4 linked regions of the Homo sapiens genome follow. The protein of the gene in region 2 purifies or fractionates together with the protein of the main gene of each other region. This does not show direct contact. Each region holds a gene or a part of one and is shown on either strand. Other genes may lie near its edges.

Region 1 (7,704 bases), on a different chromosome or scaffold from region 2:
AATACAAAATTAGCCTGGCGTGGTGGCACGCGCCTGTAGTCCCAGCCACCCAGGAGCCTGAGGCAGGAGAATTGCTTGAACCTGGGAAGGCTGAAGTTGCCGTGAGCCAAGGTTGTTCCATTGCACTCCGCCTGGGCAACAAGAGTGAAATTCTGTCTTAAAAAGAAAAAAAAAAAAAAGTATGAAGAGTTTACATACTTAAACATGGAATTGCTTTAAGTGTTTGGCATTCACCGTTCCCGTACATTACAGCAGCTTCTTTCAGCAAACACCTGGAACTTGCTATTGAGTAGGTGGAGTACGTTCTGCCCACACACAGGACAGGGAGCTGACAACCAAGGAGTGGGGGTTAAATACTCTAGCTTTCTCCCCTCCGTTTCCCTGTATCTCAGCAGTATGGAGCTCGTTACCATTGAGAACCTCCTCACTGATTTTGAACTGGTTTTTACCTTCTCAGTTCCATTTCTCCATACTTCGATTGATGACTTCTGGTATGACCTAGCAAATAAACTGCTTTCACTTAAATTTCAGTCTTGGAATCTGCTTTGGGTTCCCCAATCTAAGACAGAAATATATTCATTTTCCCATCACTGGACTTCCAGGTTGTTTTCAGTTTTTCACTGTTACAAAAAAGGCTGCAACATTTGTCTACAAACCTCTGGATATACATGTACGAAGCTTTTGGTATTTCCTACTAGTGAAACTGCTCAGCTGAAGGGTATGTGCATCTTCATCTTTAATAAATACTACCAACATTAGAAAAGCCTGACAATGTCAAGGAGTGGCAAGAGTGCCACATGTGATGGGTGTGGAATGGCAGCTCACTGTAGCAGGTGCTGGGGACTCAGTCGGGGTCTTGGAGAGACAGTTATAGCAAGAATGTTTCATAAATGGTATCTGATATAGCCAAGATTAGTGAGGAATAAAAACACGTTGCTTAGAAATAATTATCCATAGATCTGAAGTCAACAAAAGTCCCTTTTCTAATGTAAAAATGCATACTTTTCTCAGAGGGAGGGGGAACAACTTAAACCAGAAAACACCTTCATATTAATCATCCTTCTCACATACTTCAAATTTGTACTTGATGTGTTTCCCCTCCTGGACATCAGAGAGAACACCTGGGTATTCAGGCAGAAGTTTATATTTCTCCAAGTCAATTTCTGAAAAAAACGTGTCACTTTCAAAGTCCTGCATGATCCTTGTCACAAATAGTTTAAGATGGCCTAGGTGATTCATGGCTTCCTTATAAACAGAACTGCCACCAACTATCCAAATCATGTCTACTTTATTTGCTAATTCTGGTCGTTCAGTAAGTTTTAAGGCATCATCCAAACTTCTGGCAAGAAAATGAGCTCCTTGTGGAGGTTCCTTGAGTTCTCTGCTGAGAACTAAATTAATTCTATCCTTTAAAGGTCGATTCTTCTCAGGAATGGAGAACCAGGTCTTCCTACCCATAATCACCAGATTCTGTTTACCCTCTACTGAAGAAGTTGTGGTCATTCTCTGGAAATACCTGAATTCATTCCTGAGCGGCGGCCTGGGCAGGTCCCCGTTCTTGCCGATGCCCATGTTTTGGGACACAGCGACGATGCAGTTTAGCAAAAGAAACATGACAGCAGCGGTTAACACCTCCGAACTTGCTGGCTACGCCAGGAAGCCAGGCCAAGAATGCCGCGAAATTCCCTTCTTCAAATTTTTTTACGTGCCTACATTGCAAATACAATACCACTGTATTAATTAATTGCAACATTCTGGAATGAACATAGAAAAATAAATTATATAAAATATATTTATAAAGTATAAATTTATAAAATATTTATAAAATATAAATTTATAAAATTATAAAAAATACAGAGGCTGAAAGGTTAGACCGACTTTTCCACAAACATTAAACAGACGGCATCCAAGAGATGGCATCATTTCATTCCTGATTATCATAGTCTTTTGTACCAAATCTAAATTCTAATAAGATGCATTTTTTAGGTGACTTGGAAACTTGTTTAAATAAATAAATATATTAAGCTTCAAATCAGATTAGAAGGAAAGACATGTTTTTACATGAATATAAGACTTGTACCTATAGCATGTACGTATATTGATATGAGCATCAAGGAACAACTCAAAATGATGATTATTAACTATCAGGGACCATATCAAACCGGTTTTTTCTAATTGCTGATTGCTGCTACAAATGATAGTTACTGAAGCATGACACCAAAAGAGCAAATAAACTTCTATTCGTGTCAAAATAGGTGTAATAAACATCTTCCTTGGAGAACCATTAAACATTGCTCCCTTGTAAAGGTGAATTGGGGAGGCTAGAGTGGAGGGTCCTTTTGGTCTTCACGCATTTGGTATCAACGCGACAAAAATCACAATGATCACAATAGTGAAAATAATAGCAGCTAACATTTGGGCATTTACTGTTTCCTAATCACTGTTGTAACCGCTTTACATGCCTACTTCAGTTTAACACTCTCCATTAAAAGGAGAGATTATCCCCATGGGCCAGGTCTGGGGAAAAGCATGACTTAATTTCTTTTTCATTATATTCCACCCTTTTATCCTTGGGTACTGAATGTCTAGGTTAACAGGGGTCACTAGATTTGGTAGATTAAGTCAGTAACTAGCTTCGCTTTGAGAATATTTTAAATCAGTCATCATACAACATAACCCCAAAACTCATTCCTTTATTGAGCCCCATGCATATACACACTGTTCAGCACAATATGCGACTTTTTATTTATTTTTGAGACAAAGCCTCGCTCTGTCGCCCACGCTGCAGTGCAGTGGCGCGATCACGGGTCACTGCAACCTCAAACTTCTGCCCAAGCGATCCTCCCACCTCAGCATCCGCAGAAGCAGGGGCCGCACAGGCGCGCAGATGTGTGACTTTCTAAGGTCCGGCCGCCCAAAGCTACGCCGACCAATCCAAGTAGCGAAAGTCGCTTTGGCCCTGGCCCGTTACCTCCGCGTCCTGGGAAGTATCAGCCTTTACCAGCTACCGGAAGTAACTGCGCACGAAATCTCCCGCGGGAGCTAAGCCTCTTCGACAAGAATTCTATAGCGCGAGCAAATCAGTATCTCGCGAGAAATTGAAGAGGAAACGTGAGAATGAAAGTGGATGCCCGCGAATCCCGGAAGTCAGACTGTTTTTTTCAGTTCCCTGGAGGCTTTTTGATACTGATTCGCGTACACCTGTTGTTTGAAAGCTCTCAGCGGGACAATGCTGACCCAGGTGAGACCTGGGGCCCGGCTGGGTACCTCTATCTGAATGAGACGCTTCTGGACGCGGCCGAGGTGGCGAGGGAGGGTGCTGGGATGGGGGAACATCACCTTTGTTCGTCCCCTCGCGAGATCAGCGTTTCTTTGGCTTTACTGTCAAGCCCTGAAATAATGCTGAGTGCTGTAATGCTGAGTCCCTTCCGTCCAGCTCGCAGACTTCTAGTACCCACTCCCTCCAGCTCTTGGAGGGCTGAGATTTGTTTTCTGTGTCACAGCGGTATCCCGGGAGCTTAGAACAGTGTCTGTTACATAGTAGGCATTGAATACACGTTTCTTGGATGAATAAATGAAACAATTGCAAGGAAGTTCACGATGAAATTGGAGTGACTTTTCTCCCTAAATTAACTTTTCACTTTAAAATAACGTTGCAAAGATAGTACAGAGTTCTCAAATACCTTTCACCAATTTTTCTTGATGTCAGCATCCCCGGTGACTTTTTAGTTTTGTTTAGATACAAGTTCTTGCTCTGTCACCCAATCTGGAATGCAGCTGCTCCATCATAGCTCACTGTAACCTTGAACTCCTGGGTTCAAGCGATCCTCCAGCCTCAGCCTCCCTAGTAGCTAGGACTACAGGAGCAGGCCACTACGCCTGGCTAATTTTTTTTTTTTTTTTACTTTTTGTAGAGACACGTCCTTGATATGTTTTCCAGTCTGGTCTTGAACTGGGAAATGATCCTCTCGCCTCGTCCCTGCAAAGCATGAGCCAGCTGGAGTACAGTGGCGCGATCTCGGCTCACTGCAACCTCCACCTCCTGAGTTCAAGCGATTCTCCCACCTCAGCCCCCTGAGTAGGTGGGGTTACAGGCGCCCACCACTACTCTCGGCTAATTTTTGTATTTTTAGTAGAGACGGGTTTCCCGTGTTGGCCAACCTGGTCTTGAACTCCAGACCTCATGTGATCCTCCCGCCTCTGCCTCCCACAGTGCTGGGATTACAGGTGTGAGCCACCTGCCTAGCCCCTACAGTGACTTTTTAAAATTAATTTTGTTCCTTTTGACAGTTTCTTCAGCCCCAGTAGATTCTGTTTTAACCTTTGCTTCACATTTGGAAAATAATTATTTGGAAAAACCTTGCTTTTTCATAATTAGATAATGTACAGTTTTGGTACATGTAAGGTATTGCTTCCATTTCAAGAACTAGTAATTATCCAAAAAAAGTGTTCTTGTCTTAAAAAAAGACCTTGCTAATGTTGACGTTCAGTAAATTTGTAATATCACTGTGTGTCAGCAACTTTTTCTTATCGTCATAGCTGAAAGCAAAATCAGAGGGGAAGCTTGCAAAACAGATTTGCAAAGTTGTGTTGGATCATTTTGAAAAACAGTATTCCAAAGAACTCGGAGATGCCTGGAATACAGTAAGGTTAGTATAATTCATCTCGATGCTTTATGATGGAACAAAGTACAATATGTAGTCCTCCTTTTTGTGGGAGGGATGCTGTGAGGTTAAAAGGCAAAGGAATCTAAATCTGGTTGCCTTTTCCTACTGAAGCTATAGAAAGGAACAACTAAGAAGAAATAGAATGAATCATAGCATGTTGGAAAGGGGAAATAAAACTTTGTCGGGATGGTAAGCACAAATTGTTACGCCTTTGCTTTGAGCAATTACTTTGATCCTTGAAATAGGAATGCCCACTAGTTTGACAAAATTAATTATACTGTAAAAGAAAAAAACATAAAATTTGGAATATTTGACTGATTTCTGAAATTTAGAAGATAATACAACAAATCTTTAAAGCCAGCACTGCTTTATCTCAGCCAAAGGTACACTTTATTTGGTAATCATATTTCTTTCCTATGTCGATGGCTGGGTATATTTTGAACACGTGCATATACACACAAAATTATTTAAATATAAAAATAAGGAATGTTTAATGCATGGAAGTGGGAGAAATGTGATTTGTCTGTTTGGTAAGATGATGTTAATGTATGGATTACTGTATGGGTTCTTGACATTGAGTGCCTGATACACTATATAACCCTCTCTGGAATACAGAGCAAGACAGTCTGCATGTCCAGTTTACATGCCGTCTAGTTAGTGTTAATGGGAGAAGTGAGGAGATGGGTGTGGTTACAACTATATAAACTAATTTGTAAATACTGTGATCCAAGTATCTAACAAAGCCTGAGGGTGCCAGCAAAGGCCTGAAGGGAAGCTGGGTCTTGGTGACTTAGAGGAGTTACTTTGACAAAAAGAACTAGGCCTCCTAGGTTGAGGGAAGAAGGTGCACTGTTCATGAAGTTAGGGCAAAAGCCCACTACATGTTGCATGAGGAAAAAAAGTTGCATGGCTACAGATATTATCTGGAACTTGGTCCAGACTAATTTTTCAGATGGTTGGCTTGTCCATTTTTTTCTTGGATCAACTCTTAAGCATTTCTCCTTTACAAAGGGCAGTTCTGAGCATTTTCTAAAACAAATTAAGTTTTGGCTAATAAAGATCACAAAGTCTGAGGTGATTCTGAGATAATTTTAGGACAATTAAGCTGTTATAGAAATTGGTAAATGCTGTAATATGCAAACCGTTTATACTCGTGGGTTTTATTTCAAAAGTAGATTTTCAAATGGGTATTTTCTGTCACAGAGATGAAGAACTGAATAATAAAGTATGTAATAAATTTATGAGGTTTTCAGTATACAAAGGTACTCAAATAGAGTATCCAAATAACCAAACACTTATTGCATGTTTACTATATGCCAGACAATACTGACTTACATGATCCTCAGAACAAACCCGTTAAGAGTTTAAGTAATTTGCCCAAGTTCACTCAGCTAATAAGTGGCAGAGCTGAGGCTTGTGCCTGGGTTGTCTGACTCAATAACTCCCACAGCTCATCCTTGTTCTGTACTGTCTCATATCTGGGATGTGATTTAAAAAAAAAAAAGATTTCAAGAGGCTTTTTTTTTTTCTGTAGACTTTGTAGCAGTCTGGCTACTCATATCCTATAATGACTTATTTTTCTACTTAGTGTACTCAGAAAGTCATATACTATTATTTGACCCTGAGCAAAATGAGCAATGAACCTCAAATCCATTTAATTAGCTGTGCCTTCTGCTTCATTTACCCTATTGTGGGGTTTTTGTGGTAATTTAAGTTTTGCATAAACACACACTAAATTTGCCATAGGCAAAATAAAGGTTTCTCAGCTTAGGAAGTAGTCTGAGCATGGAAGATGGTATGGGGAAATAAGAACAGAATGAAATATTTTGTGTTTTAACTGCTTGTTTGCAAGACATAATGTACTTGTAGAGTCTACTTCCAGGGAAAGTCAAGTGCTCTTTTTTTGGCCTATTTAGAAAGTAATTTATTCAATATTTTTAGTTTCCTGTAGTAGTGAGGAAGATTTAGTATTTAGTTTTGCTCTTTTTTAGTAACCTTTCTTGTCTAGTCATCCTCTGAGCAGCCCTTTAAAATTGGAGTTTACCCTGGTTCAATTCTTGCTCTATTTGTTGCCTCCATGTTCTCCTCAGGTAAGCCCATTCATGGCATGACTTTTATCAGTATGCTGTCATCTCAAGCTGTGAGGTTCTTCCTAAGATTTAGTCCCATACTTCTGTTTTTTAGCAACTTCAGTTACTTGGCAAACTCAAAAGTGTATTATTATTTTTCCCTTTCAAACTTATGTTGCCTTTGCTACCTGCATATTTTATCTCAATTAAGTGTATCACCATCAGTCTGGTTTCCTCCTTTCTTCTCTATACCTTCACTACCTTTGTAGTAAAAAATGAACCTTATATAAAAATAGGTCTGGCAACTGCCCTCAGCTCCTGGGAGGCGATCTCTAAGCCCTTGGAATGTGCTTCCTGATAAGTGTGTCTTTGTTTACCTGGGTGTTGAGGTCACACCTGATAATCTAACGATGTGATTTATGTTGAGGCCTGGGGACCACAGGTGTCAACTCAACATCCAGAAGGGCTTGTGACTAAAAGCTGTATGGACAGTCAATCATATATACGTGACCAAGCCCCAATAAAAAGTGGATACCAAGGCTTTGGTGAGTGTCCCTGGTTGGCAATACTCTTGTGCATACTGTCATACATTACTGCCAGCAAAAGTTGACCTCGTTGATGATTCCGTTGGAGAGGACAGCTGGAAGCTTCATGCTTTGAATTGTTGTGAATTCTGCACTATGAGTCTCTTCCTGTGATTGTTTTTAATCTGTATGCTTTCATTATAATAAACTGTGACTATAACTGTGATTATAACAGCTTTCAGTGAGTTCGGTTGTGTCCCAGTGAATAATCAAACCTGAGAGTCATCCTTGGAATCCCTGAACTTGTAATTGGTGTCAGAAGTGAGAGTTGTCTTTGAGACTCAACTACCCTGCCCCCTTTTAATTTGGATCTTTTTAAAAAAATTCTCTACTGCTGCCATTCACTTAGACCTTCCCAATCTCTTATCTGGCATATTGCAACAG
Region 2 (6,834 bases):
TTAACCCAATAAGCGCTGGCTCTTTTATATTTAACAAAAATGTTAAGCTTATCTATATCCTCTCACATTTTACTATAAGTATCGAGAAGTCAGACAATAACTTCAGAGACCTTCTTAGCTTCAGAGAAATATCACCAGCTATACCACCACTTCATTTGCTATATATTCAATTTTCATGTTATCACAGGTGACAATGTTGCTAAACTTTCTACCACTACATGTCAAGGATTCTCTTTCCTCTAGCTATAGCCTGTTTCTCACTTTCCTTTAAGCCCTAATCAACGGCCTCCTTGTGGGTCATCACGTTTCCACTCACAATCTTTATAAGGACTTTCCGACTCTGATTTGATCCCAAAGTCATTGCCACATGTTTGGCTTTCATATGCAGCTTTCCACTTCCAGGTGCCAAAATGTGTTCTAGGTACTATGGCTGCCTCATAAATTATCCAAAAATTTACCAGCTTGAGACAATCATTTTTTATGCTTTTGGGTTCTTGGGACAGGAATTCAGAAAAGATACAGTGGGGATGGCTTGTCTCTATTTGATGATGGCTAGGAACTTGGGTTTAGTGTTTTTAGCAAAGTATTAGTTTATCAAACTAAACTAAACTTGGTTTTAGTGTTTTTAGTAAAGAGAAACCATCATAAGATCAAAAATATAATGAATATATTTTAACTCAATGGAATAAAACTCAATCTTTTCAATGTAAGTCAGTAAAATTCACAAAAAAAAAAACAAAAATAAGATATAGCAAATGGGAAATATAAAATAAGATAATATGTCAATCCTAAGACAATTAAAATAAATGTAAAAAGGTTAATTTTGCCAATTAACAGACAAAGACCCTCCTTTGGGGATAAAAAGCTAAATCTAAAAAGATGTTTTGTACATGAGACGCTCTTAAAAAAAGAAGGCACAGGCCGGGCGCGGTAGCTCACGCCTGTAATCCCAGCACTTCAGGAGGCCGAGGCAGGTGGATCATTAGGTCAGGAGATTGAGACCATGCTGGCTGACAAGGTGAAACCCCATCTCTACTAAAAATACAAAAAATTAGCCAGGCATGGTGGTGGGCACCTGTAGTCCCAGCTACTCGGGGGGCTGAGGCAGGAGAATGGCGTGAACCCAGGAGGTGGAGCCTGCAGTGAGCTGAGCACGTGCCACTGCACTCCAGCCTGGGCGACAGAATGAGACTCTATCTCAAAAAAAAAAAAAAAAAAAAAAGAAGGCACAGAGACTTTGGAAATAAAAGGATGAAAAATATCAGGTAAGAGTGAACCAAAAGAAAGGAAAGCAATCATAACACTGTATAAAATTAAATTTAGGACAAAAGTATGCTATACAAAAAAAAAGATACAAGAAAAACAAATACAAGAGGACATAATTATCGAAAGTATATGTGCTTTAATATACAGTCTTGAAGTAAGTCAAGCAACAACTGACCAAGAGAAGTAAGTGAACAATTGCTATTGGTGATTTTAACATTCCCCAATGAGAAACTGAAAGCTTAAATAAATAATCAACATAAATATGAAGATTTAAATAAAATAAGCTCAAGTTATTACATATATACATATATGAATGTGTATATATACATATCAAACAGATATCCATTATTTTTTAAAGAAAACATGAAATGTTTATTAAAATAGGCCATATATGAGCTGGGCACGGTGGCTCACGCCTGTAATCCCAGCACTTTGGGAGGCCGAGGCGGGCGGATCATGAGGTCAGGAGATTGAGACCATCCTGGCTAACACGGTGAAGCCCTGTCTCTACTAAAAATAAAAAATATTAGCTGGGCATGGTGGCTCACGCCTGCAGTCCCAACTACTCGGGAGGCTGAGGCAGGAGAATCCCTTGAACCCAGGAGACGGAGGTTGCAGTGAGCCGAGATCACGCCACCGTACTCCAGACTGGATGACAAAGGAAGACTCCGTCTCGAAAAAAAAAAAAAAAAAAAGACCATATATGGCTATTACAAACCTCAAAACATTCCAAATGTTCAATATCATAATGGACAATATTCTTTGACCATAGTGAAATAAAATTGGAAGTGAATAACAAGAGAATAGCCTAAAATTCTAAATAAACTCAGTGACATATTACTAAACTACACTCTGGTTTTAAAGGAAACCAGAAAAGAAATTTTAAAATACTTAGAAAAAAATTACAATGAAAATAGTAATTATCAAAAATGCGTGGGACATAGCTCACTCAGTATTTAGATGAAAACTTGTAACCTTAAATACATTTATGTGGAGACTGGAAATATTAAAATGTAAGAAAGCTAAGCATTTATCTCAAGAAAATAGAAAAAAGCACAACAGACCAAAACCCAGAGAATTTAAAGGGGTGATTAAAAAATAAAGATATAAACAGAAATCAATGAAATATCAATTTTTTAAAAAACCAGTAACAAAACTAAAAGGTGGATCTTTGGAAAGATTAATTAGCTATATAGATCTCTGTAACAGGACTTATCAAAGGGAGAAAAGACATAAACAAAATACAGAACAAAAAAAGAAAAAAGAATTACTGATATAAAATAATAATGTAAAAATAATAATGGAGAGGCCTAATGAATAACTGTAGTATTTAATTTGAAAATCTAGATGAAATAGATAAATTCCTAGATATAAAGTTCAAACTTGCCTTATAGGATAGGAAACTTGAAAAGACCAATAAACATCTACAAAACTAAGGTGTCTCCAAAACTGCAGACCCATTTGTAGGCTCTACTCTCCTCTTTTCCCCTGGGAAGAGATTCCCTCATCTCTGGATGGAAGCAATGATGCTGTCAACCCAACAGAGAGCAAAGAACCCTAGCGAGGCATTCACAATGCCTCATCCTTCTCCACACTGTGATCAATCAGTCCTAAGGGGGGCAACCACGCCATAGACTTTTGGGGGGAACTGTTATGAACATTGAGAAAAATGAGAATTTCTCTCCTTCTGATATCAACTAACCAGTTAGAACTAAATAACCCAGAGCTACTGTGGCCACATTTGTCCCCAATGCAGACAGAATAAAGTAGAAGAAAGCAGAGCTAGGAAGGAATAAAAAAAAAAAAAAGACAGAGAGAGAGAGAGAAGGAGAGATCTGATGCCTGATTTAGAACTCCGTAGATCCATGCCTGAAGTCCTTTCCACCCTTGGACCTCTCATTCATTCCTTTTTGCTTTAAAGCAGTTCAAATTTGATGTCTGTCACCTGTAATCCAAAGAAAACTGATGAAAAATAAAATGTGGGGAAAGGGGAAGGTGCTAGACTTTAGAATTGAATGGCCTTGGATTTGAATCTCAAGGGCGTTTAACTTAACTTCCATGCAGCTCAGTTTCCTATCTAAAGAGGAGTGACAATGGTACCCACTTCACAGAGTCATTGTGAAGATTTCGTGAGATAATCCAGAGGAAGCGCTTGGCAGATATTATTCCATGTCTGTCTCTCCCACCAGACTAAGACCACTGGAAGGCAGGACCTTGCCCAAGTCATCCCCAATTGGAGCTAAACACCTATTTTTCTTTTTACAAGTATCTGCACCTTGGTGCTAATTAAGGGCACCTAAGACATCTCTGCCAACTGACACAGGGCAACCACATTGATGCAACTCCAGCCACATTTTGGTATTAAAAAAAGACTTCATAGAATTGAACGCAGAGCAAAGTTAATTTGCAGCATTTCTGTGTTTACTCAGCTATCCTGACAAAGCCTCCCATTGGTTAATGACTCGGGGGAGAGGACTACCAAGCGGTGAAGGCCACTGGCCCCTCTAACCATTAACCACCCAGGAAGCTGGCAAACAAAATTTAACAGGCAGCATCCACCGCAGGCTTACTGTACACATGCTAGGGTCCAGGACAGCAGGACCAAGCCAGCAGAAACAGCCTGAGCCCACCGCAGACTGTGAGTAACACCTGAGAACCCTCTGTCCCTCCCCCTGCCCAGCCTCCAGAGCAAAGCCATGGCTGCAGCTCGCTTGTTTGGTTTGTTGAGATGCTTTGTTTTTTTAAAGGGCACATTGAACATTAGGGCAGCCAGCAGTGTTATGAGGCAATCTGGTTAGGATTTTCCAGACCCCGGAGTCTGTGAGTCATCCACAGGGGTTCCGATGTCCCCTGGGTTCCTGCCATGCAGGGGGCTGACACAGAGGGCTGTAGCTAAGAACCATTCTCGTCCACTGCCATGATTGATGCTCCTAAGCCCAGCCAGATAGCCACAACAGCCACAACAGCCACAGAGTCGCAGCCTGCAAGCTACAATGCATCTGCTCCAGTCGGCACCACCGATGAAGGATGCTGGCCGCGGGTCAGGGCCTGGGAGGGCTCAGCTGGCCCAGTGCAGGGGTATTCTTCTGAGTCACGCAGACCTGTCTCCACCATGGCTCCTCACTCAGTGACCTGGGGCAGAGATAATGCACAGAGAACAGAACTGTCTGCACTGTACCACATGTCATGAGGTTTCACTACAGAAGGTCAAGAACTGTGCCTGGCTCATAGGGCATTTGTGAAAACAGAGAACACAGTGAATATTTACTAAGTGAGTCTCTTCAGAGATGAGGAACAAAGAGGGCATACTTGACATGAAATGCATGAATAATATTGATACTCTGCATTTTTATATGGCTGGGTACTTTTTTGTTTGTTTGTTTGTTTGTTTTTTAAGATGGAATTTCACTCTTGTTGCCCAAGCTGGAGTGCAATGGTGCGATCTCGGCTCACTGCAACCTCTGCCTCCTGGGTTCAAGCTATTCTCCAGCCTCAGCCTCCCGAGTAGCTGGAATTACAGGCACACACCATCACACCCAGCTAATGTTTTTGTATTTTTAGTAGAAATGGGTTTCGCCATGTTAGCAAGGCTAGTCTCGAACTCCTGACCTCAGATGATCTGCCCACCTCAGCTTCCAAAAGTGCTGGGATTACAGGCATGAGCCACCACACCTGACCATGGCTGGGTACTCTTAAGAGCTGCTTTACTCATCATTTTGCTCTCTGTAGAGATAGGCAGAATGGCATGGCACAAGCTCCGATGTCAGACATCTAGGCTTAGAATTCCAGCTCAGGGGGAGTTACTCTGTCTCCCTGGATCTCAGTTTTCTCATCTGTAAAATGGGCCCCAGGATGACCCATTAAGTGAGGTCACATAAGCCAAGCACTGATAACAGCCACGTCTGGTATTCACAACAATATTGTGGGGTGGATGGAGTTTTCACCCTCATCTTAGAGAATTAACGCAGGAGAAGGTGAGACATGCAATCTCCCCAGAGCTGGCAGGGGAGCCCATCCTACCATTGGCATCATACCGCACAGGGCCTGTGCCTGAGAGGAGATCCCAGATAGGTATGGCAGTGACCAAAGCTAAGCAAAGATTTCACTGCCTGTCATGGGGCAAGGCCATAGAGAAGCACAGATACAAGGCTTCCTGGAGGCGGTGACCTGGGACCTGAGTCTCAAAGGACAAGATGGAGTGAGCCAGATGAGGCAGGGAGATGAGGGACCTACAGACTGGAGCCACATAGGCAGGACTGAGGCAGATCCATCTTTGTTCCCTGCTCCCAGTCCAGAGCTGGGCTCAGCAAACATGGAAAAATCAAAATGACCTGCCCTGGGGAACTGCAGTGACCTGTCTTGCTGTAACCTGCCCTATAGTGATGTGACATGCCCTGCCCTGCCCCACAGTGGGAGAAAAGGCTGATGTGTGCTGGAAGAACCCCTGGCACCCAGTGTTGCTGTGGCTGAGACCCCAAAGGGCCAGATTTGAGGCTGGAGGCAGAACTGTCACCAGGGACTGGGTCACAAAGACCCCCTGGGCTACATTAGTGAGAATCAGCCCTGTGGTGGGCAATGGGGAGTCCCTGAAAACTTCAAAGCAGAACCGATCAGCTTGAATTTTTGAGAATTTAAAAAGATGCAGCTGCAGATGGGTAAAAGGGCTGGAGGGAGTTGAACAGGAGGCAGGGAGACGAGGTAGGGGCTACTGCTGAGTCCTGAGAGAGATGAGGAGGCTGTGCAGAGGCACTGGAGAATAGACAAACACCAGAAAAATGGGTAAGGCTAGAGGTGTTATTATCAGCTCTATTTTATACTGTGGAAACTGAGGCAGAGTTTAAGTAGCCTGTCCCACATCACCTAATTCATACATGGCAGTGCTAGGGCCCCAATCCAGCTTGATCTGCCACGAAACCCAGGATCTTTTCTGGGTTTCGCGACAAAAGAATTGTCGCGAGGACCCAGAAATCCAAGTCAGAAACCCGATGGAGAATTCAATAAAGCCCATCATTTGGGTGCGGGGAGTGGGGAGCAGGTCACACCTGCCTCTATTATCTAAAGCAGAGAACTAGGGGCTAGAGCAGCCAACAGGGGTTGTTTTCCACCCTGGTGAGATAAGGGAGACACGCAAGGAGGGTTTTGGGAGACTCAGGAGAACTAAGGGTTTTGCGGGGGAGTTCCCACCTGTCATTCTTGAGATTCTGCTTTTGGAACACACCAGGGAAGGGGCCTCTAGGGAATTCCAGAGCAGAACAGTGGTTCCCACGCTCGGAGCGCACCTGTTAAAAGAAAACTTTAGACAAATTAAACGTAGCAGAGTTTATTTGAGCAAAGAAACAATTCATGAATCACACAGCACCCTAAACCAGTAAAGGTTCAGAGAGTGCCACCCAGCAACGTAGGCAGTATTTACAGGCAGAAGAAGGAAGTGACATACACACATAGGCTGATAGGTTACAGCTCTGTGTTTGCCTTGTTTGAACATGTCTGAGCAGTTGGCAGGCTGTGATTGACTGAAAGTTCAGCTGCTATGATTGGCTGAGACTTGGTTACTTGTTACAAACATAT
Region 3 (8,025 bases), on a different chromosome or scaffold from region 2:
CCTTAATGTGAGAGTCCAATCAAAGCCTCAAAGCCCAGTATGTAAAGCCTAATAAATTCTGCACATAGCAGATAGATAAATTCTTCCTAGGAGGAGGAAAAGAATCAGAGATGTCACTGAGTCACACAAAATACAACCTAGACAGAAAGTCAAGATCCCTGGTCAATCTTTTCCAGGTGGAATTCTTGCTCATTCTTTGCCCCAAGAAAAAAAAAAAAAAAAAAAAAAAAAAAAAAAAAAACAAAATTCTAAGTCTTTTTTTTTTTTTTTTTTGAGACAGGGCCTCTCTCTGTGGCCCAAGTTGGAGTGTGGTGGCATGATCACAGCTCACTATAGCCTCAACCTCCCAGTTTCAAGAGATCCTCCCTCCTCAGCCTCTTGAGTAGCTGGGACTACCGGCGTGCACCACCACACCTGGCTTTTTTTTTCTTTTAATATTTTTTGTAGAGAGAAGGTCTCACTATGTTGCTGGTTTCAAACTCCTGAACTCAAGCAATACTCCCGCCTCAGCCTCTCAAAGTGTTGGGATTACAGGCATGAGCCACCACACTCAGTCTCACCAAGTCTCGTAACTTTTAAAGTCAAATTTCCAGAGTCACTTCAGGACCCACCAGGCCTTAAGGTCCAGCTTATTAAAAATCTTACATTAAATCTCTGTATATTTTTTCTAGGCATTATAATTTCCTTCCTCAAGGAGTTGAGAAAAAAACTGTATGTGGGAACCACAACATACAGTTGAAGGAAGTTAGAATTAAAATTTCTATAGCTTTTAACATTTGATTAGCACATCATACATGTGTAGAATGTTTTCCTAAGCTTTCATTCTAAAAACACAGAATTCATTTTATTTCCAAGTGCACCTTGATGAAGTAGGAGCACATGGCATTTTATTTTAGAAAGCAATGTCTTAACAAACTTGTTATTTCTTCCAATTATGCAAACTCACCAAATGATTTTTTATCTATTTATTTATTTAGTTTTATCTTTTTTTGAGAGAGTCTCACTCTGTCACCAGGGCTGGAGTGTGTGGAGTGATCTCAGCTCACTGAAACCTCCACCTCCCAGGTTCAAGCGATTCTCCTGCCTCAGTCTCCCAAGTAGCTGGGATTACAGGTGCCTGCCACTATGCCCAAGTAATTTTTTGTATTTTTAGTAGAGATGGGATTTCACCATGTCGGCCAGGCTGGTACGGAACTTCTGACCTTGTGATTTGCCCGCCTCGGCCTCCCAAAGTGCTGGGATTACAGGCGTGAGCCACCGCAGCCGGCCAAATGATGATCTTAAAGGGCCTTTGATAATGCATTCTTGACCTCATTCTACTTGCCATGTATAGTCATTAGAAGACTGTTCATATAAAAATATGAAATAAAACTACATAGTCTTTAAGTTACCTTGGAAGGCCCTTCAGGACAAGGAACATACTCTATATCTTTATATCTTTAAAGCATATAGCAGAGTGCATCGCGGAATGAAAATGCCTATTAAGTCAGGAATGCAGGAACGACAGGGCTTACCATTTAATATCAATTCTAAAGCTGATTATTTATTTTTGAGACAGGGTCTTGCTCTGTCACCGAGGCTGGAGTGCAGTGGTATAAACACAGTTCACTGCAGCCCTGACTTCCTGTAAAGCTGATTTTTTAGGCCATTTACTTGCTTTATAAAGTAACTAGAATGGCATGAACTATGCTTTTTTGTGCCTGTGATTATAAACTGAAAATTTACAAACAATATGTCACATGTTATTTGAGCTAAATGTCTGATTTTACTAAAATGAAAGTATCCTTCCTGGATTATTAGAATTAGCAGTAAATTTAAGTTTGCACCTAGAAGAGAAAAGCGATTGTAAAGAATGTAAAACATCTGAAGCAAACAAAGTCCAATAAGATCTTCCTTCTACTTGAATTTCTATGACCACAAAGGCACAGGATGTAAGGTCCATAGCTTTGTACACAGGGATTGGTGGGGACGACACGATTTCAACTCTGAACCCCAATGACCAGCTCCAGGAACACATGCCTTTTAGCCCCGCAAAGCTACTGACCAAATCACCCAGAGAGATAATCACATCTCAGCCAAAGGACCTGAACTCAGACGATCAGAACACAGGACCTGCCATCAGGCAGCTGCACGAGACAAGAGACCGTGCTCAAAATCACGTAATACCCTAAGTCATCCCAAGGGAGCCCCACAACTACCCTCAGCGGCAGGCAGAGCTGACGCATATTTTGCAGATGACAACATACAGGTTCCGATGGGGCGGGTCCCAAGGCCACAGAGCTGGGAAGGTGACTGAACCTAGACTTAACTAGTATCCCAAGTGGTGGATACTTCCCATTCTGCCTTGGAGATCGCCCTTCGCCCGCGTATTACATTCGGAGGCTGGCAAAACGGCAGGAAGAGAGCAAAGCTGGGCAAGGACGGGAAAGAAAGAGGGGAAGGAATTTCCACTGCTTCCCGGCACTCGCCCCCACTCCACACCCCAGGTTGCTACTCCGCGGCGGCCTCTACTTCCCCAAACTAGACTGAAGGGCGGGCGGAGAACCGAGGAGGCTTTCTAGGCGTCACGGAGAGTTCTCCAAGTTGGGGGCAGAAAAGGCGAATGAACAAATTGTACCCCCTAGGGAGAGGGCACAAGGAGAAGTGCGGAGGTGAGAAGGACCGGAGGGGAGGACGACCCCTCACAAACTGGCCAGGGACTTAATAATGGTGATGAAGGGTCGTGAGAGAGGTTTGGGAAATGCGAGAATAGCTCAGTCCCCAAAATCCTCCCTGGCCGCATCGCTGGATCCCCGCCCCATCCCCCCACCCCCGACCCGGGCAGCCCGGGAGAAAAAGCAACAACCTCCTGGGGCACCAGGAATTGGTGGCAGCAGGATCCCGAGCCCAGGCCCCCTTCCGCGCCCCCACCCTCACCCTTGCCCTGACCGCCTCGCAGTGGCGGCAGCAGCGGCAACAACACCAACCTGCGCGACCACGGGCTCTGTCCGGGACGGAAGCCGGAGCCTGCGGGCGGCGGAGCGGCGGGCGGAGTTAGTTGGAGGCTCCGGCTCCCTGGGCGGGGACAGGCTGAGCACGCGGAGGCAGCGGCGGTGGCGGGGGCTCCCTCTCCTCGGCGTGCGCCGGGCCCAGCCGGGTCCGCCGCTCGCCCTCGACTCCTGGGGCAGGTCTCAGTCCCTCCCCGGGGGCGGCTCCCGGGCCAGCCCCGCGCTCGCCTCCTCCACGCCGGCGGCCTCTGCTCCGCCCTGCCTCTTTGGGCGCAGGGGGCGCGGAGCTTGGGAAGTGGAGCCCTGGCGAGTCCCCAGCGATTGCGCGCAGCTTCCCGGGGTTTCCCTGCGGGGGTCGCGTGTGCTGGGTGTCTGAACTCACGCGCGGGCCAGAGGTAGCCAAGAGCTGGAACTCTTGCCCAAGTGCCCCGGGGAAGGGAGTGAAGGCCCGGCCTGAAAGTCTCTGACCCTCCCGAGTCTCGTGTCCCTAGAAGCAGCCTTGCGAGGTGGCCACGCCAGCTGCCCTGAGAGAAGCAGAGGAAAATGTCCGACTCTCCCTCCGCCCAGCTTCGCGCCAGAAGAACGTTTCCCGAGAGAAGGAAGGACCCATTGACCCCCAGCCCTTGCTCCAGCCTGGAGACCTGGCTGAGTGCATGGAACTGGAAGGATGGCAGAGTACCGGGGCTGAAAGCCTGGGAAATGTGCTATTTCTATTCACACCACCCCCTTGCCCGGCCCCTGGATTCAGGCCACCTCGCTCAGGTCTGCGCAGTGCTTCCCAGTTCACACCTCCGACCCGAGGAGGGAGGTCGGTATCCCTTTCTTAGCCTGGCTTCCCGCCTCCATCTGCATCCCTTTCTGCTAAACCTTTTTAACCCGCAGAGTGCCCAGCGCGCACACACCGATCACTTCGCCCCTAAACTGCGGGCAGGGAACTCTGGAGCCACCCACATCCCCAGCCTCACCCCAAAGCAAGAGAAAGCAGGGAGCCGCGCGTGGGGTGGTGGGGGCGGGGCTGGAGAGTTCCAGTAGGAAGGTTTTATACCCAAGAGGCTTGATGATGTGCAGTACTGACCCCACACACAAATTGATATGCGTTTAATTGAAGGCAGGTATTTGCCACTGTCTCTCCCTGTCTGCAGGTAACCGCTTGAGTGCGTTCACCTCGCCTCTTCCATCCCCAGCGCCAGCCCAGCCCCCTCTCTTTCTCCCAGAGTCCCATCCTCCTCTCCCTCACCTCTCCCATCCCAGCTCCCTGCAGCGCGGGTCCCGAGCTGCTCCAGATCCCCAGCACCCAGCTCTGGTCTTTCCAGACAACTCCTCCCCTTCAGAATCTGGTGTGGTAGCAGGGAGGTTGTGAGAAGGGACACTGAGGAAGATAAAGAAGGAGAAGCCAGTGGACTGGGAAGAAGGTAGGAAAGTGCGAACCGAAGGGGTACACCGGAGAGGAGCTATGGGAAATGAGGCAAAGCCTTCAGGCTATAGGGGGATTCCCAGAAAGAAAATCATTTTCTCCATAGGGAAACTACCGATGCTCGCTGTAGACCAGTTGGAAAATCTGTTGTACACCCTCCCAACAGAATTCCTAGTGAGCAGTGGCCAGACTGGTCAGGGCCTAGAGCATGTGTCCAGGAACTCCATCCACTTCCCAACCCAAATTCCAAGGCAGGCGGATGACCCTCATTTTGGAAACTTGATTCTGAGAAGGTGCGAGAAGACACCGAGCTGAGTCTGTTTACGGATCCCGGGCTGTTCTTCATCTTTAGGCATCTCCTAAGTCACTTTATCTCTTCCTCCTGGTCTGGGTTGTTAAGGAAAGCAAGCACTTGAGACCCTCCCTCAAATACGTCTCTCCTCTGTGTGTGTGTGTGTGTGTGTGTCACAGAGAGAAAGTTTGTGGTGTGAGAGAGAGAAGAAAATGTGGAGGGGCAGGAGTTCTAGGCTATGGTGTTTTGTTTCTCTTTGTTTTCTTTCTTCAATTCAGTACATTTTTGTGCCAAGATGATTTTCTTGTTCAGTGGTGACTATATTTTTGCCTTAAATGTGGGAGAGTAGTTGGGACAACACTTCTAAATGTAACCTGACGGTAACCTCTCACACCCTCAAGGTCCTGGTGTGTCTGGAATTGGTGAGTTCTTGGTCTCACTGACTTCAAGAATGAAGCCGCGGACCCTCTCTGTGAGTGTTACAGTTCTTAAAGGCAGCATGTCTGGAGTTTGTTCCTTCTGATGTTTGGATGTGTTTGGAGTTTCTTCCTTCTGGTGGGTTCGTGGTCTCACTGGCTCAGGAGTGAAGCTGCAGACCTTCGTGGTGAGTGTTACAGCTCATAAAGGCAGTGTGGACCCAAAAAGTGAGCAGCAGCAAGATTTATTGCAAAGAGCAAAAGAGCAAAGCTTCTCCAGTGTAGAAAGGGACCCCAGCGAGTTGCTACTGGGGCAGCCTGCTTTTAGTCCCTTATCTGGCCCCACGCACATCCTGCTGATTGGTCCATTTTACAGAGAGCTGATTGGTCTGTTTTACAGAGAGCTGATTGGTCCGTTTTGACAGGGTGCTGATTGGTGCGTTTACAATCCCTGAGTTAGACACAAAAGTTCTCCAAGTCCCACTAGATTAGCTAGATACAGAGTGCTGATTAGTGTATTCACAATCTCTTAGCTAGACATAAAGGTTCTCCAAGTCCCCACCAGATCAGCTAGATACAGAGTACTGATTGGTGGATTTACAAACCTTGAGCTAGACACAGGGTGCTGATTGATGCATTTACAAACCTTGAGCTAGACACAGAGTGCTGATTGGTGTATTCACAATCCCTTAGCTAGACATAAAGATTCTCCAGGTCCCCACCAGATTAGCTAGATACAGAGTGCTGATTGGTGCATCCACAAACCCTGAGCTAGACACAGAGTGCTGATGGAGCAGGGGGCAGCGCTAGTCTAGGAGGCTTGGGGAGGTTCGGTAGCGCAGGAGCCCACAGCCTTGGGGGAGGCTCAGGCATGGCGGGCTGCAGGTCCCGAGCCCTGCCCCGCAGGGAGGTAGCTAAGGCCCAGCGAGAAATCGAGTGCAGTGCCAGTGGGCCAGCACTGCTGGGGGACCAGGCGCACCCTCCGCAGCTGCTGGCCCGGGTGCTAAGCCCCTCACTGCCCTGGCGGGCGAGGCCGGCCGGCCACTCCGAGTGTGGGCCCGCCAAGCCCACGCCCACCCGGAACTCTAGCTGGCCTGCAAGCGCCCTGCTCAGCCCTGGTTCCCGCCCTCGCCTCTCCCTCCACACCTCCCTGCAAGCTGAGGGAGCCGGCTCCGACCTCCGCCATTGCAGGAAGGGGCTCCCACAGTGCAGCGGCGGGCTGAAGGGCTCCTCAAGCGCGGCCAGAGTGGGCGCCAAGGCCACGGAGGTGCCCAGAGCAAGCGAGGGCTGCCGGCATGCTGTCACCTCTCACTGGTTGGCACAGCCAATTTTAGCTGTGCTGTCAGACGCCCAGTAGTGCACCTCACCTCAGAGCCTCAGACTTACAGCCTCAAGGCATTCCATTCTGTGTGCAGGCCAGCTTGGGCAGTGGAGCCAACCACCTCCACTTAGGTGAGGAGAAGCCTCCCTTTTCACTCTCCTCAGGGCTCCACCCCACCTGAGGTTGTCTCTGCACTCTGTCATTACAAAACTAGTCCTTAGTGTCCCAGTTTTACTTTCAAAAATACTATATCCAATTTAATTTAAAAAATCTCTTTCTCCGCCCCCCGCTTGTTTCCTCTAATGCTCAAAAGGCTAGGCCATTGAAAGTTCAAGAGGGTAGAAATTTCTCTTTTTCTTCTCATCAAAAGAGAAATAGTCCTTGAAAGAACCTTATTAAACTTATATCCTTTCTGAATATGGTAATCCCTTGGTATTGATTATTTTAATTTTATATTAATGGTATGATCTTACTGCAAAAGGTGACCAGTCAGCTGATGAGGATAAAGGGTCTAGTTTCTTCCTGGAGAAACTCTGACAGCTAAAAGAATGGGAGGGTTTATTTACAGACAGGAGAATTGGTCTCCGTCAGTGTTGCAAAGTAGATGGAGATGGACATTCCTTTGTAAACGTCTCTCTTTTTTCAGTTTTATTTCATAGCAGCCTTGTCCAACTAATACTGCCAGTTCTCCAAGTCAGTTTGCCTCACACAAAAGTGTTAGGGACTTCAGATGCTACTTCCTACTAGTGTTTGCCTTGAAAAAGAGTGACATTTCAAGCAGAAGTGAGAGAGTAAAGGAGGATTCATGGAAAATATTTCCTGTACCCTTTAAGACTTTTCTCATAGTCATTTTATGTAAAGATGGGTCTGATGGACAGAACTTACTCTGAACAACTTGGCAACTGTTCAGGCCTACAGGCTTCTTTGAAAATTAAAAAAAAAACAAATGCACACTTTCTCATTTCCCAGCACTTCAAACATGATCTAAGAGTACAGAAGGTTACATTCAAGTAGCAGAATAAGCTTCAAAATGGTTATATCAAACAGTCAAATTTGCTTATGCATATTCAGAACGACAAGAGAAAATATTAATTTCAATTTAGAAGTCATCAAAAAGCACCTTGTGGGCAATATAATGAATAGCCCCATGTTAAAGTAATACATGTTTGTTCTTTAACAAATAAATTTTCCTCTGAAATATAGACATCTGTCATGGAGTCAATTATCTTGCACAGCATGTGCTGTAAAAGCACATAAAAGCAATAATATACTACATTGCTTATTTGAAATCGATCAGGAATAGGCAGCTCCATGCTGGCATGTCTTTAATTTCATGGTGTTAAGAAAAGACTATAGAAGTATGAAATAGCAAACCCTTTCCTACTGGAGTACTAATTCAATTACCTATCATGATATATATAGGAGGAAAAATTTTCCTCATTAGCTGGCAGAAACACTATGGGACTATTTTCTCGTCTTACTCTGCTAACCCCTGTAGCGAGAGTGTGAACATAAAGTTTCCTTTGAAAACAAAGGGATCAACACACTCTGATCAGCTCCAGGGGTGTGCAGAAGAACAAAGCTAGAAATGATAT
Region 4 (6,592 bases), about 63 Mb from region 2:
ACTCAAAAATATCTTATACTGTTTAATCAGGTAGTGGCTGTGTATAATGCCTAGGACAGTAGGTATTCGATAAACTTGTGTCTTTTTATTTTTTTTTTTATTTTGGAGATAGGGTCTTGCTCTGTCACCCAAGCTGGAGTGCAGTGGTGTGATCATGGCTCACTGTAGCCTTGACCTCCTCGGCTCAAGCAGTCCTCCCACCTCAGCCTCCCAAGTAGCTCAGACTACAGACATGCACCATCCCACCCGGCTAATTTTTTTTTCTTTTTTGTAGAGGGGGTTCTCACTATGTTGCCCAGGCTGGTCTTGAATTCTTGGCCTCAAGCAGTCCTCCTGCTTCAGCCTCCCAAAGTGCTGGGATTACAGGCATGAGCCACTGTGCTTGGCCTCAATAAATAATTGAATCAAAGAAAAAATATTCTTGGTATTATTACATGATTTAAAAAACAATTCAGATTGGTCTTTCCACATGAATTTTTACCATATCCTCAGGGGAGACACTAGCAGTAATAAAAGTAAGCCAGCTTACAATAACTCACTAGCAGTTTTATTGCTTAAATATTCAAACTACAATATTTTTTCTGCAGTTATTTGAAATGTCTTTGTCTTTAAATGTTTATAAGCAGTCAGTAAATACTTTACCAACTTAACTTTTAAGTACTTAGGTGACTTAGAATATAAGCCAAATATATCTATATACATATAAAATTAAGGAGAGAAATAGAAAAATACCTGGCAATCCTGCTCTCTTATTCAGTGTGATATTTTTAGTCATAAGTTGTTATGAAAACACACTACAAAAGCAGTTTGATACAGGTCTCCTTTCTATATCCAGATTTTATAGTCTGCAGTAATAGCTAGCTATTATTGATTGGTTTTAAGAAAATATCCACTTGGGTCAAAATATGTGTACCTGAACCATGTTAAAGAGCTGTGTTCATTTAAGTTTCTCTTTTCATTTTGCTTATATAATCAATACAGAATGGTTAGAGAACGAATGTTGCTTTTGGTCTAAGTATCAGATTCTTTTATTGAGCTATGGAATTTGCATATCTGTACATTTAGTAGGCATGGTTAGAACTCTTAAGGTTTTAATCCACATTATCTCCTCTTTCCTGAGTTTCTAAGAGCCATGATTATGAAGCCTCAGCAGTGTTTTTAACAAAGTACACTGTAAATTGTAACCAGAAGGCAGCGGCTTTAAAGGAGTGCTTATTTGCCTAAATGGCTGTTGACATACTTAATAGTTTTGTATCTGATTCTAGTATGCTAAAGCATTTCAGTATTATGAGAATACAATTTACACACTGGATCCCCTTGTACTTTTTCTTTCAGTTGTCAAAATGTTACCATTATTGCTGGGATTCTAAGAAATCTCTACAAATGCCTCTGATGACATCAGAAACAATTGGTTCTAATCCTGTGAACTCTCTTGTGAAGAAAGCATGAGACTCCTTCGGTTTAGAAGCCATATCTTTCAGGTCATCCAGAGGTGCCCAAGCCACACCAACAGAGAAGATAGTGATTCCTACAATGAAAACATTTTAAAGTGAATTGAAAATCAGGTCTAGCTAATATATGGAATTATGTCTATATGTTTTCCATACACTGTTACATAGTTGCAGCGAAAACTGCTTACTAATTTCTGGACAATTAAATCCCCTGAACAAATTAAGTTTTCACAGTCATTGTGACGAGAGTGGCAAAAGAGTGGTCCAAACCAGAAACTCTGCTATATCTGTAATTCGCCACATTAACAGGTAAGTCATCACTGATAAGAAATAATTTGATAAAGTTCAATATCCATTAATGACAGAACACACCTATAAACTAGGAATAGAAGAAGACTTTTAACCTGATCCACAGTATCTTTTTTAAAATCCTACAGTAAATGCGGATGGTGAAAATTTTCCGTATGAGGTTGGCCTGCATCAAACAGTATACTGGAGTCAGAGTCACAATCCATTAAAGCAAGGAAGAATGGCACAAGAGATGGGATAAGTAAATAGCAAAAGTGTTCAAAGGTTGCATTGTTTGAGGAATGGTGACTAGTCCTCTGATAATGAAAAATCCTCTTCCATTTCAATCTTTATATTGGCAAACTGTCTAATAATCAGAAAATGTCAGCCTATAATCCCAAAGCAAAACTAGTGACTAAAAAGTACTGCCCAAGAGGGATCTTATGAAACTGGAGTAATTTCTTCCAGTTTCATTGAGGTATTCTATTTCCATTCACTTTAGTTACTAGAAGGCTTTTAGTACAACTGTACATTTAGGGTAATAATACATTAGTTGGATTCACCCCAATCCCAATTGTAGAAGTTTTCATTTAATCTTTTTTTTTTTTTTTTCTCAGACAGGGTCTGGCTCTTTTGCCCATGCTGGAGTGCAGTGGTACAATCAAGGCTCACTGCAGCCTCAACTTCCTGGGCTCAAACTATCCTCCTCAGCACCCCCATCCTCAAATAGCTGGGACTACAAGCGCATGCCACTAAGCCCAGCTAATTTTTAAATTTCTTTGTAGAGATGGGGTTTCACCATGTTGTTCAGGCTGGTCTCATCTCGAACTCCAGGGCTCAAGCGATCCATCTGCCTCGGCCTCCCAAAGTGCTGGGATTACAGGCATAAGCCACCACACCTGGCCTCATTTAGCAGATTCTTAGTGTAGAGTACCATCTATCTAATGCTGGGTGCAATTTTCTATAACTTTTGGAGTTTCTGTAATAGTTTTCCTCTACAGATCTAAGGTTTCATTCCCCTTCTAGTGGTATACAGTGCTCAGAGTGGTAAATACCTAAGATATGCAGCAGGTTTAGATGATGTAAAAGCTACTTGGAACAATGTCCAATTGTTCCAGTCTCCTTTTCCTGACTCTCACTCCCTGGTTAAAAAAAAAAAAAGTCAAAATATTTTTTTCCTCCCCCTCAGTTTTCCTCACTTCTTTTCAGTTCTACATTCTAGTTCAGATTGTTTAGCTCAAGCCCAGCATATAATTACAGTTAAAAAAAAAAATAATCACACCACTGTACTCCAGCCTGGGTGACAGAGCAAGACCCTGAAAATAAATAAAAACTGTTGTGATCTACCCCTAAAATCCTACCCTATTTTCTGGCTTTTGCAACTTTCAATATCACTAAGGGATAATTTTCACGAATCAATATTGGTGTAGTCCAGCCTCCTGAACTTTAATCAACCTAATCACTTTATAGCCTGAATACAATCCTGTTAACTATAAGTTCAGTAAGCTAAGTATTAAGGAATATGATAGTAAACAGGTCTTTACTTCACAGGCTAGTTGCTGATGTATAAAAAATACTTTTTACAAGCTAGATGTGGAACTTAAATTGCATGTGTTCTCTGTTTTAAGAATAATCTTTCATCAGTATCTGTAAAAATATGTGAGTACATTGGCAGAGGTACTAATGTGTAGAAAGGAAAAAGGTTATGTCATTAGGAATTAAGTAGGGAAAATGAGGTACAGAAGAGTGTTAAAAAAAACAAGTCCATTGATTCTTCCCTCCTGTCACTCAGTTATATCCTCAGAAAGGGAATCTTAGCTTTTTGTTGGCCTATTTGATCTCTAACACATTACGTTAATGTCTTCAGGAACGAGGCCTGTGCCAAAAGTAATATTAAGGCTGGGGTGAGGAAGAAAGAAACCCTTCTTATACCCTTTTATAACACCAGAGTGTGTTTTTATTATCTTAAGCGGGGGGGAAAAAGTTTTTTTTTTTTTTTTTTTTTCTTTTTGAGACAGAGTCTCACTCTGTCGCCCAGGCTGGAGTACAATGGCACGATCTCAGTTCATTGCAACCTCTGCCTCCTGGGTTCAAGTGATTCTCGTGCCTCAGCCTCCTGAGTAGCTGGGATTACAGGTGTATGTTACCACACCCAGCTAATTTTTGTATTTTTAATAGAGACTGGGTTTTACCATGTTGGCCCGGCTGGTCTTGAACTCCTGACCTCAGGTGATCCCGCCCACCTCAGCCTCCCAAAGTGCTGAATTACAGATGTGAGCCACTGCACCTGGCCAAGGAAATTTTGATGGGATAGGTAAAGTCTATGGGAGACCTTATCTTAGGAAACTCATGCCAGACAAAACTTGACTAAAATAAAAGTTAGGGTTGGGTGTGGTGGCTTATGCCTGTAATCCCAGCACTTTGGGAGGCCAAGGTGTGAGGATTGCTTGAGCCCAGGAGTTTGAGATCAGCCTGGGCAACAAAGTGAGACCCCCGTCTCTCCCCAAAAAAATTTAAAAATTAGCCAGGGGCAGTGGCATGTGCCTGTCGTCCTAGCTATTTGGAAGGCTGACACAGGAGGATTGCTTGAGCCCAATAGTTGGAGGTTGTAGCTCACTACATGCCACTGCACTCCAGCCTGGTGACAGAGCAATTACCTGTTTCATACACAAGAAAGTTAGGATAAATTACTGAATGGCAGATTCATGGTAGGTTATAAGCTGGCTATTTGGAGATATAGTCCAAGTTTGAGCTAAATATGAGCACCTTAATTGTATATGTATAAGCATATTTCCTTAATGTGACATGGTTCTCATGGCAATTCTCCCAACAATACAGTGGTTAGGAATGTGCACTCTGGAGCCAGAATGCCTGGGTTTGGATCTTGGCCTTGCCACTTACTAGAAATGTCATTTCCAGGAAGTTTGCTTCCTTATCTGTAGAATGAGATGAGTAGGGCTGCTTTAACAGTTAATATTGGGTAAAGCCACAGGTGTTTGTTTAATGAAATAAATGCTTAAATTTTTATTTACTCCTAAATTCACTGAACCGTTTTTTCTGTTCCCTTCTCCTATAAAGAACAAGGACCTTACCTGCATCATGTGCAGCAGCTGCAGGGCCTTGGACATCATCATAGGACTGCCCATCTGTGACAATTACTAGGAAGTTCTTGTTGGGGCTCTCCCTTATAGGGCCAAACACATTTCTAACAGTGAAGGAAATGGCATCACCAGTAGCTGTTCCACCACTCATATAGCGGATGTTTCTGATGACAGCTAGGACATTCTCTTTGGTGCTATAGTCAGTGAAACTGAACTCCGTGCGCTGATCATAAGTAAACTGTACAGCAGCTATCTTGGCACCAATGTCCGAGATTTCAAAAGTCTTGGCTATGTTGGAAACAAATTCAAGCATGAGGCGGAAATTGCTATCTCCAACACTGCTGGAGCCATCAATTAGAAAGGCAATGTTCACTGAGTTATAACAGGTCTTGCTGCACATCATTTGTTCATGAGTGCACAGCTTCTGTACCAGAGGCTTTACGTATTTTGTGGTGCCAAACCAGTTGGGCATGTGGTAAGAGAAGAAGCCATTATTCCGACAGACAGCCTAATGGGGGAGACACATAAAAGATATCCAAAAGGATCAAAAGTTGTTTCTTCTTAAAAACTGGAAAATCCTGAATGTTTCAAGTTAATCTAGATAAGAGGCAGTCAGCACTGCACTTAGAGGTCCAAAATGGAATACCCATCACTGTAACAGAAGATAACCCTCACCACTTTACCTTGTCAACAAATGTGACATCCTGAACCATCCCCAGTTCTTCAGGGATAGGCTTGGCCACAGAAACTATAAATACATTGACACCAAACTCTCTGGCCACAATGCCTGCTTCCTCGATGTCATCAGAAGGCCAACCATCAATAAATACCACCACCACTTTGGGGATCCCTTTTCTTACTCCAGCATCTACCGTGAAGAATTTCTGAGCAGTATGCTTCAAGGCTTTTCCTAAATTTGAAAAAGAAGCAAACAAATAGCCTTTACCACTGCTCAAACCACATTTCTGTTTCCCTGTAGCATTTGATGCTGCAAAGTTTAAGAATTATATATAGAACTGGCAGTGGGGCGGGGCACACAAAAAAGAATTATATAGAACCCAGTTCTGTAACAGATGCATCAGCTGGGAAAGTTTAATTATCTACCAGGCCTATTTATCTTCACAAGCCATATTAGTTCCCCCTCCACCTCCTAGAAGCCTCACATTTGTTTACCCCACATCAATCGCCAGTTAGAAACACAAAACTGATTCCCACTTCCATGCATGTGCTCTCTATGTAGCCCTTTGGTGACTGATTAGTACCTCTAAGAAGTCTCTCTTCAGAGTCAACGGTAGTGCTACTCATTCTTTCTGCCACATCTGCATTCATTAGATAAGTCTGTTGATTTTCACTTCTTTTTAGCATTACAAAGAGATACTTCTCCAATGTTATATCTAGTCAATCCAATGTATGAGAATTCTAAATCACCATGCTTTATATTTTTTAAAATAAGAAATATCAACACTTTGGTATACTTCCATTATAAATTGAAAATTTATCTCAGATGATCAAATGCAGACCTAGCCAAGATTTCAGTTCCAGGAGGATTTCACATCTGCTCATATAAAATAGCATAATACTGTTTTACATGTCTGATCACTGATAACCCTCTCCTATGTTACATCCCAGGTATCAAAGTCTACTTACCTGTATTGGAATTACCCCCTCTGAAACCTACTTCCTTTATGGCAAACAAAACATCTTTGGCTGATGTAAAGTTTTTCAAGTAAAATTCTATTTTGGGATGTTCAC

What was found.
Region 1: the proteins of SERPINA6 (region 2) and DHFR2 purify together in Homo sapiens (affinity purification with mass spectrometry; 3 studies listed by BioGRID and IntAct, with this or other methods). This does not show direct contact.
Region 3: the proteins of SERPINA6 (region 2) and PAM purify together in Homo sapiens (affinity purification with mass spectrometry; 3 studies listed by BioGRID and IntAct, with this or other methods). This does not show direct contact.
Region 4: the proteins of SERPINA6 (region 2) and COCH purify together in Homo sapiens (affinity purification with mass spectrometry; 3 studies listed by BioGRID and IntAct, with this or other methods). This does not show direct contact.

What each region holds. Positions count from the first base shown.
Region 1 is NC_000003.12:94,059,898-94,067,601, forward strand, and holds the start of DHFR2 (dihydrofolate reductase 2, mitochondrial), read right to left. Parts: upstream 3,020-7,704; 5' UTR 2,849-3,019; intron 1,710-2,848; 5' UTR 1,615-1,709; coding exon 1,051-1,614; 3' UTR 1-1,050. Other genes in the region: NSUN3 (tRNA (cytosine(34)-C(5))-methyltransferase, mitochondrial), read left to right, coding at 3,230-3,241, 4,540-4,649. UniProt on the Homo sapiens protein: Key enzyme in folate metabolism. Contributes to the de novo mitochondrial thymidylate biosynthesis pathway. Required to prevent uracil accumulation in mtDNA. Binds its own mRNA and that of DHFR.
Region 2 is NC_000014.9:94,320,337-94,327,170, reverse strand, and holds the start of SERPINA6 (corticosteroid-binding globulin precursor), read left to right. Parts: upstream 1-3,834; 5' UTR 3,835-3,904; intron 3,905-6,834. UniProt on the Homo sapiens protein: Major transport protein for glucocorticoids and progestins in the blood of almost all vertebrate species.
Region 3 is NC_000005.10:102,750,290-102,758,314, reverse strand, and holds the start of PAM (peptidyl-glycine alpha-amidating monooxygenase isoform e preproprotein), read right to left. Parts: upstream 3,011-8,025; 5' UTR 2,967-3,010; intron 1-2,966. UniProt on the Homo sapiens protein: Bifunctional enzyme that catalyzes amidation of the C-terminus of proteins. Alpha-amidation is present at the C-terminus of many endocrine hormones and neuropeptides and is required for their activity.
Region 4 is NC_000014.9:30,884,552-30,891,143, reverse strand, and holds the end of COCH (cochlin isoform b precursor), read right to left. Parts: exon of another isoform or gene 6,592-6,592; coding exon 6,488-6,591; exon of another isoform or gene 6,470-6,487; intron 6,160-6,469; coding exon of another isoform or gene 6,103-6,159; intron 5,751-6,102; coding exon 5,524-5,750; exon of another isoform or gene 5,349-5,523; coding exon 4,832-5,348; exon of another isoform or gene 4,818-4,831; intron 2,002-4,817; exon of another isoform or gene 1,889-2,001; intron 1,761-1,888; exon of another isoform or gene 1,529-1,760; coding exon 1,353-1,528; 3' UTR 526-1,352; downstream 1-525. UniProt on the Homo sapiens protein: Plays a role in the control of cell shape and motility in the trabecular meshwork.